2 linked regions of the Homo sapiens genome follow. The protein of the gene in region 2 purifies or fractionates together with the protein of the main gene of each other region. This does not show direct contact. Each region holds a gene or a part of one and is shown on either strand. Other genes may lie near its edges.

Region 1 (3,500 bases), on a different chromosome or scaffold from region 2:
ACATCCTTCACCTGTGCACCTAGGGATTGGGGGATGAATATGTCCTTCCTAGGCCCACATCTGGGCTAGGTGCTGGTGGCTTAGGTCCCCGAGGGTGAGGGGAACCCGATCTTGTAGGGAGGTGAAGGCCAAGGCATTAGGTGCTAGTCTCTAGAGGGGGCCAGGGCTGGGTGGGAGGACCTGAGTGACTGGGTCTATGGAGGGAAGGAGGTGGATGTCAGGGTTCAGGAAGAGGCTGACTCAGGCTGCAGAGCCTCTGCCTCATCCTTGAGGGCAACAGGAGCTGGTGTGGGGTGGCTGGATGCCTGGCCACCCCTAGACCTGTTTACTGAGCACCTCCTGTGGGCTGGGCACTGTTGGAAGCACTTTACGTAGTTGGACCCATTTAATCATCTCAGCAAGCCCATGAGGAGCATCAGCATCCCCATTTTATAGATGAGGAAAGTGAGGCCCCGAGAGATCACGTGGCTCGCCTGAGCTCCCCAGCCAGGAAGTGGCAGCCGCAGGATTCGGACCCAGGTAGCCTGGCCCCACAGGTATGCACTTGATAACTGGACTCTACACCCTTGATGGAGGCTGGGAGACGATTTCCCAGTTCTGGAAGAAAATGGGGCTGCGAAGTCAGGAGCCTGGGTCCCTGAGGAGGATAAGGGCTGGGGCCCTAGGTTCTAGAGAGAGCAAGGACTTAGGGGCTGGATTCCTAGGTCTGATTTTTTATTTTATTTTTTAAGAGACAGGGTCTCACTCTGCCACCCAGGCTGGAGTGCAGCAGTATGATCATAGCTCACTGTACCCTCAAACTCTTGGGCTCAAGTGATCCTCCCACCTTGGCCTCCCAAAATATTGGGATTACAGGTGAGTATCTTGTTCTTGAAGAGAGAATGGGGCTCTGGGGGCCCCAGACACTCAAGTTTCTCAGGAGCTGTCCCTGAGAGCCTGTGTTGAACCCATTTAATCATGGCTTCCTGGGGCCAGAGGATGACCAGTTTGGGATAGGGATCATGTCCCCAAGGCAGCTGTACTCACCATGACTCCAGTGCACAGGCAGACGATCTTGCCCCACATGGTGCCCGGCACCACGTCACCATAGCCGATGGTCAGGAATGTGATGGGGATCAGCCAAAGTGTGTCTGAAAGGTGCCCAGTGGCATTAACAGCCTGCCTATGGGGAAGGGTAGGTTAGTTCTAAAACCCCACCATAGAGGTTTCCATGATATTCACTCCCCTTCCCTCTATACCCTCCCATCCCCTTCCCTCTGGTTCCCTCCCTTCCCCTCCCAGTATACACCCATAGTCCTAAGAATCACCTGGACAAAAAGCCATTAAGTTCTGAGCTTTGGAAAGCCTGCATGGCCTCCTCTCTGCTGTGTGACCTGGGCAAGTTGCTTAGCCACTCTGGGATTTGAGACTGGGTCTGGCCAATCCCAATGCCGGTATGGTCTCAGCTAGGCTACCCGGGCTGCTGTAGCATTCAGAGCGTGTGGTTGAGGGTGGAGAGTCGATAGGGGGCCAAAACCCAGTCAGACCCTGACTGGTGGCTACATCCACCCAGAGGAAGGGGTATATTTTTCTAATTTCCACAAAGATGCTGTGTGGTCCAGAAGTGGCCCTATCAGGACCAAAAAGGACTCTAAAAAGGCTTGGTGGGACTCGGCCTTCCTTTCCTCTCACTTCACAGAGGAGACATTTAAGTCCAGCCATGGAAGGGGTTGAAACATTGAGATTTGTCTAACTTTGTCCACAGGCCCCTTGCCGCAAGACCAGCAGGGAAAGCTTCATTCATGAGGGCCCCTGACACCCCAGACCCACCGGGTTGGAGTTTCTAGGAGCGAAGATGGAATCTGTACTGTTCACAAACCCCACCCCCTCATTCCGAAGTACATTCTAGTTTCAGGACTTCTGCCTTGGAATGTGGAACTTTGACTTCCTCCCCATTCTCCCATCATTCAATTGAGAAACATGGTGGGGGGATCATTCATTAATCCTGATTCTGACCAATTTCCCAATTGTGAAAACTAAGATCCTGGAAGGTGAAGGAGTTTAAACTCATGACAGAGGGCGGGCATGGTAATCCCAGCACTTTGGGAGGCTTAGGCAGGAGGATCACTTGAAATCAAGAGTTCAAAACCAGCCTGGGCAACACGGTAACGTGGTCTCTACTAAAAATACAAAAACTAGTCAGGCATGGTGGTGCACATCCGTAATCCCAGCCACTAGGGAGGCTGAGGCATGAGAATTGCTTGAAGCCGGGAGGCAGAGGTTGCAGGGAGCAGAGATTGTGCCACTGCACGCTAGCCTGGATAATTGAGACTCCAGATCAAAAAACAAGAACTGCCAGGGAGACTACAGATGGTGGAACGTGACATGCATTTTTCAGATGAGGAAACTGAGGCTCAGAGAGGAGAGATCTAAAGCCAGATCTTCTCATTCTCCTCCTGCCCTGAAGGATCTTTGCCACATACACTAGACCAGAGGTTCTCAACCTTGGTTGGGCCATAGAATCACCTGGAAGGCTTGCTAAAGTGGATTGCTGGCCCTACCCTCCAGGATTCAGTAGGTCTGGAAGGGACCTGAGAGTTTTCATTTGCAAGTTCCCAGGTGATGCTGCTGGTCTTGAAATCACACTTTGAGGACCACTGGCTGAGATCACTCCCAACCTCGTTTTTCTCTGAAAGGGATAGAAATTGAGGCGCGGCATCGGGTTACACAGTATCTAGCTGGCAACCAGGATCTAGTTCCAATTCCCTGCTTGGAATTATTTTCCAGAGCAGTTCCAAATCATCCCCTTCCTAGGATCACAAAAAGCACCTACCTACAGTGCATTCCGTGCTAATTGGGAAAATATGTCTCCTTCCTCCAAGGCAGAGGCAACCCTTTAGGCAGGTCCCAGAGATAGGTTCGGAGACCGAACAGATGGCCTGTAAACCTGAGGCAGAGGTCAGGCAGCCGGAAGGGAGGGGCTTTCTAGGGTCTGTGTGTGCGTTTGGGGAGACTGAAGGCTGCAGGTGGAGGATTGGCTGGGGGCTTGTCTGTTGGTTCCTCTCACCCCAGTTGATGGGAGTGTGGGCAAATTTCAGCCAGCAAGAGGAGAAGGGGTCAAAGTGTGAACTTTCTCCACTGCTTGGTCCTAGGGGGCCTCAACCTGCACCGCGGCACAGGACGGCCGCCGTGGCTGTCCGGGGTTCCCCCCTGCGCATTTATGCCTCCATCACCCTCACCTCTCGGCCACGGACAGCACCCAGGCGGTGGTCAGCCAGAGGCCAAGCGTGAGGCCGAGCAGCAGGCGGCCAGGGTGCGTGTTCATGTAAAGCTTGGCCACGAACCAGTGGCGGAAGCGGACTTGATTGAGAGCGCCGATGCTGCGGTAGGAAGCGTTGAGCAGGACGCCGCTGCGCAGGAGCACGGCGCGGGGCACCAGGTAGAGACGCAGCAGCATGGCCAGGGACAGCAGCGCTTCCCCTTGGCCCAGGAATCCCGGCCAGGGCTGCGGGGAGGTCAGC
Region 2 (2,659 bases):
TGGGAGGCCGAGGTGGGCAGATCACAAGGTCAGGAGATGGAGACCATCCTGGCTAACAGGGTGAAACCCCGTCTCTACTAAAAATAAAAAAAATTAGCCGGGTGTGGTGGTGGGCGCCTGTAGTCCCAGCTGCTCGGGAGGCTGAGGCAGGAGAATGGCGTGAACCCGGGAGGCGGAGCTTGCACCGAGCCGAGACTGTGCCACTGCACTCCAGCCTGGGTGACAGAGTGAGACTCTGTCTCAAAAAAAAAAAAAATAGCTGGGTATCGTGGTCCATGCCTGTGGTCCCTCCTACTCAGGAGGCTGAGGCAGGAGGATCACAAGAGCCCAGGGAGGACAAGGCTGCAGTGAGCCGTGATCGTGTCATTGCACTCCAGACTGGACAGAGACTCTGTCTCCAAAAAAAGAAACCAGATAAATAAATAAAAATAAATGTTAGTGGAAAAGAAGAGAGACAAGAGGGTCCCTGGATTACAGGAATAGAGGAAGGACCAAGGATATGCATCAGGAAAGCTGACTTTATTCTCTTTCCTGTGCACACCTACCCCAAGTCACTGGTCAGAACTGATGTGGACTGGATGCCCGCAGAAGAATCCAAGGATTCGGCAGGTGGGAAATGCAGTGATGAGGCAGACAAGACAGCTATACAATCGCCATATTTATGTTGGCATGTACATTGATGACACATAAACTGCATATTTACACAGGAGAAAGGGTACAGGCAGGCTGAGGATTCCTGGAACAAGGGCCTTGCTGAACGCTGAAGTGGCAGGCACTCCGCTGAGGCCTACAGGGGAGGATGGTAGGGGCAGGAATTGAAGTACAGTCTTCTGGGCAGAGAGGTGGGCAGCCACGTGGACAGCTCTCTGGAAAGGGGTGGCTCTCTTGAGGATGGGCCAAGGCAGCCAGGCGCTGCTGTACACACTCAGCTGTCAGCCGTGCTTCTGGGTCTGCATCCCAACAGTCTTCTAGGAGCTCCCTCAGCCCATCAGGGTCCTGGGGGGAATGACAGGGAGGAAGGGTTGACCCTAGGATCTTGAGTGGGCCCCAGGGTTAAAAGCCATCTTCAGTGTCCATCACTCTCCTGCTTTCAACATCCACTTCTGATCTTTCCTGGAGCCTCCCTCCTCTCCCTCTTGCTGAATTCCAGCCCTCTGAGTCTTGCTCCCTATGAAACAGGCTCTCTGGGGGCCTTCTGTATAGCCCACTGTTTCCTCTGAGGAGCTAATGTAGGTTGACAGCTTAATATGCTAATGGGAAATTACTCTCTTTCCTCTCAGAGAGCCAGAGTCTTCTGCAAGTAATGCCCAGTTTCTGTCAGCCAACCTAAGACTTGTGCCGTGGAAATTTCAGATCAGGTACAGAAGGGACATTTTGTTAAAAAAGTATTTGTGCAAAGCCCTGAACTTTCACTGTGACGCCACTGCTTTCACCTTTTATACCTAGAACTGCCTTTTATTGGGTCACAGCAGAAACATCATCAATGTATGACAGAATGGGGACTTATTGAATTGATTTTTGGGCTTTACTGTATTAGGAGAGCAGATGGGGCAGAGCTCAGGGCAAGAGCAAAGCCAAGGAGGGCTTCCTGGAGAAGGGGACTGAGGAACAGGGCTAACTGATGGCAGAGAGGAGAGACAGGCTGGGCAAGGTTGAGCAGGAGGAAGGTGTGTGTCTCAGGTAGATGGAATCGACTGTGTGAGACTTAGGGTGGAAGAGGATGAACTGACGGGGAGAGGAGGCTTGCCCAGTTCCAGCTGAGCATGAACCAAGGAGTGATGGGAGATAAGTGGAGATAGGAGTAGACAGACACTCTGGCAGAGACGTCCTTGAAGCCCATGCCCAGCCCCCACTCTCCAGGTTCCCAGACCAACAGCCTAGGCCTCTTACTGTGGCAAAGCAGCGCCAGGTGGATGGGATGTAGGGACGCCTCCTCTCCTGCACTGCCAAGGCCCATAGCTCATCAGAGGTAGGGGTATTGCCCAGTTCTGCCTCATAGGCCAGTTGGAAGGGTGGTGGACTGCTGTCTGGAGGAAGGTAGAGGGGCTGGGTATCAGTTAGTCCTAGGGGTGCCTACCATGTAGAAAGGGCAAGACAGGGAAGAGCAGAGCTTTCTCAGGCCAGGTCAGGTTGGGGTGAACCTAGAATGGGCGGGGGGGAGCCCAGGAGAGGGGACTGTACCACCCATCCTTACCAGGCCTCAAATCTGGGCAGCGGCTCAGTATCTCCCACAGGAGCAGAGCCAAAGAGTAAATATCAGCTCGTCGGAGGGCCATGCCCCAATCCTGTAGGTCCAGAGTCTTGTCCAAGAGCTCTGGTGCCATGTACCTCTGGGTGCCAGCCTGGAGAGCAAGGCACGAAGGGCCAAGAATCATCTCTGTGGCAATCCTCATTGCAGCAATGGTCCATGCAATATCCCCCCAACTACAGACTCAGCAATGTCCCAAATGCTATAGGTATTGCTACAACTGTTGACACACAATGGCTGCATTGCCATCAGCAGCACCAACATCATCCTGGGCCTCACCAGTTATCCAGAGAACTCACTTCCATGATGGCAGCTGGGCCTTGTGGTTGAGTAGGGGTCCAGGCAGGGGGCTGAGTGAGGCCAGGGAGCACCAAGGCAAGGCCCAGGTCTCCAATGGCACACGATCCATCT

The links.
Region 1: the proteins of AMHR2 (region 2) and KCNN4 purify together in Homo sapiens (affinity purification with mass spectrometry; one large-scale study listed by BioGRID and IntAct). This does not show direct contact.

The regions. Positions count from the first base shown.
Region 1 is NC_000019.10:43,770,974-43,774,473, forward strand, and holds part of KCNN4 (intermediate conductance calcium-activated potassium channel protein 4), read right to left. Parts: coding exon 3,219-3,500; intron 2,928-3,218; exon of another isoform or gene 2,927-2,927; coding exon of another isoform or gene 2,830-2,926; exon of another isoform or gene 2,824-2,829; coding exon of another isoform or gene 2,813-2,823; intron 1,163-2,812; coding exon 1,027-1,162; intron 1-1,026. UniProt on the Homo sapiens protein: Intermediate conductance calcium-activated potassium channel that mediates the voltage-independent transmembrane transfer of potassium across the cell membrane through a constitutive interaction with calmodulin which binds the intracellular calcium allowing its opening.
Region 2 is NC_000012.12:53,429,514-53,432,172, reverse strand, and holds the end of AMHR2 (anti-Muellerian hormone type-2 receptor isoform 1 precursor), read right to left. Parts: coding exon 2,548-2,659; coding exon of another isoform or gene 2,528-2,547; intron 2,343-2,527; coding exon 2,195-2,342; intron 2,028-2,194; coding exon 1,891-2,027; intron 997-1,890; coding exon 700-996; 3' UTR 501-699; downstream 1-500. UniProt on the Homo sapiens protein: On ligand binding, forms a receptor complex consisting of two type II and two type I transmembrane serine/threonine kinases.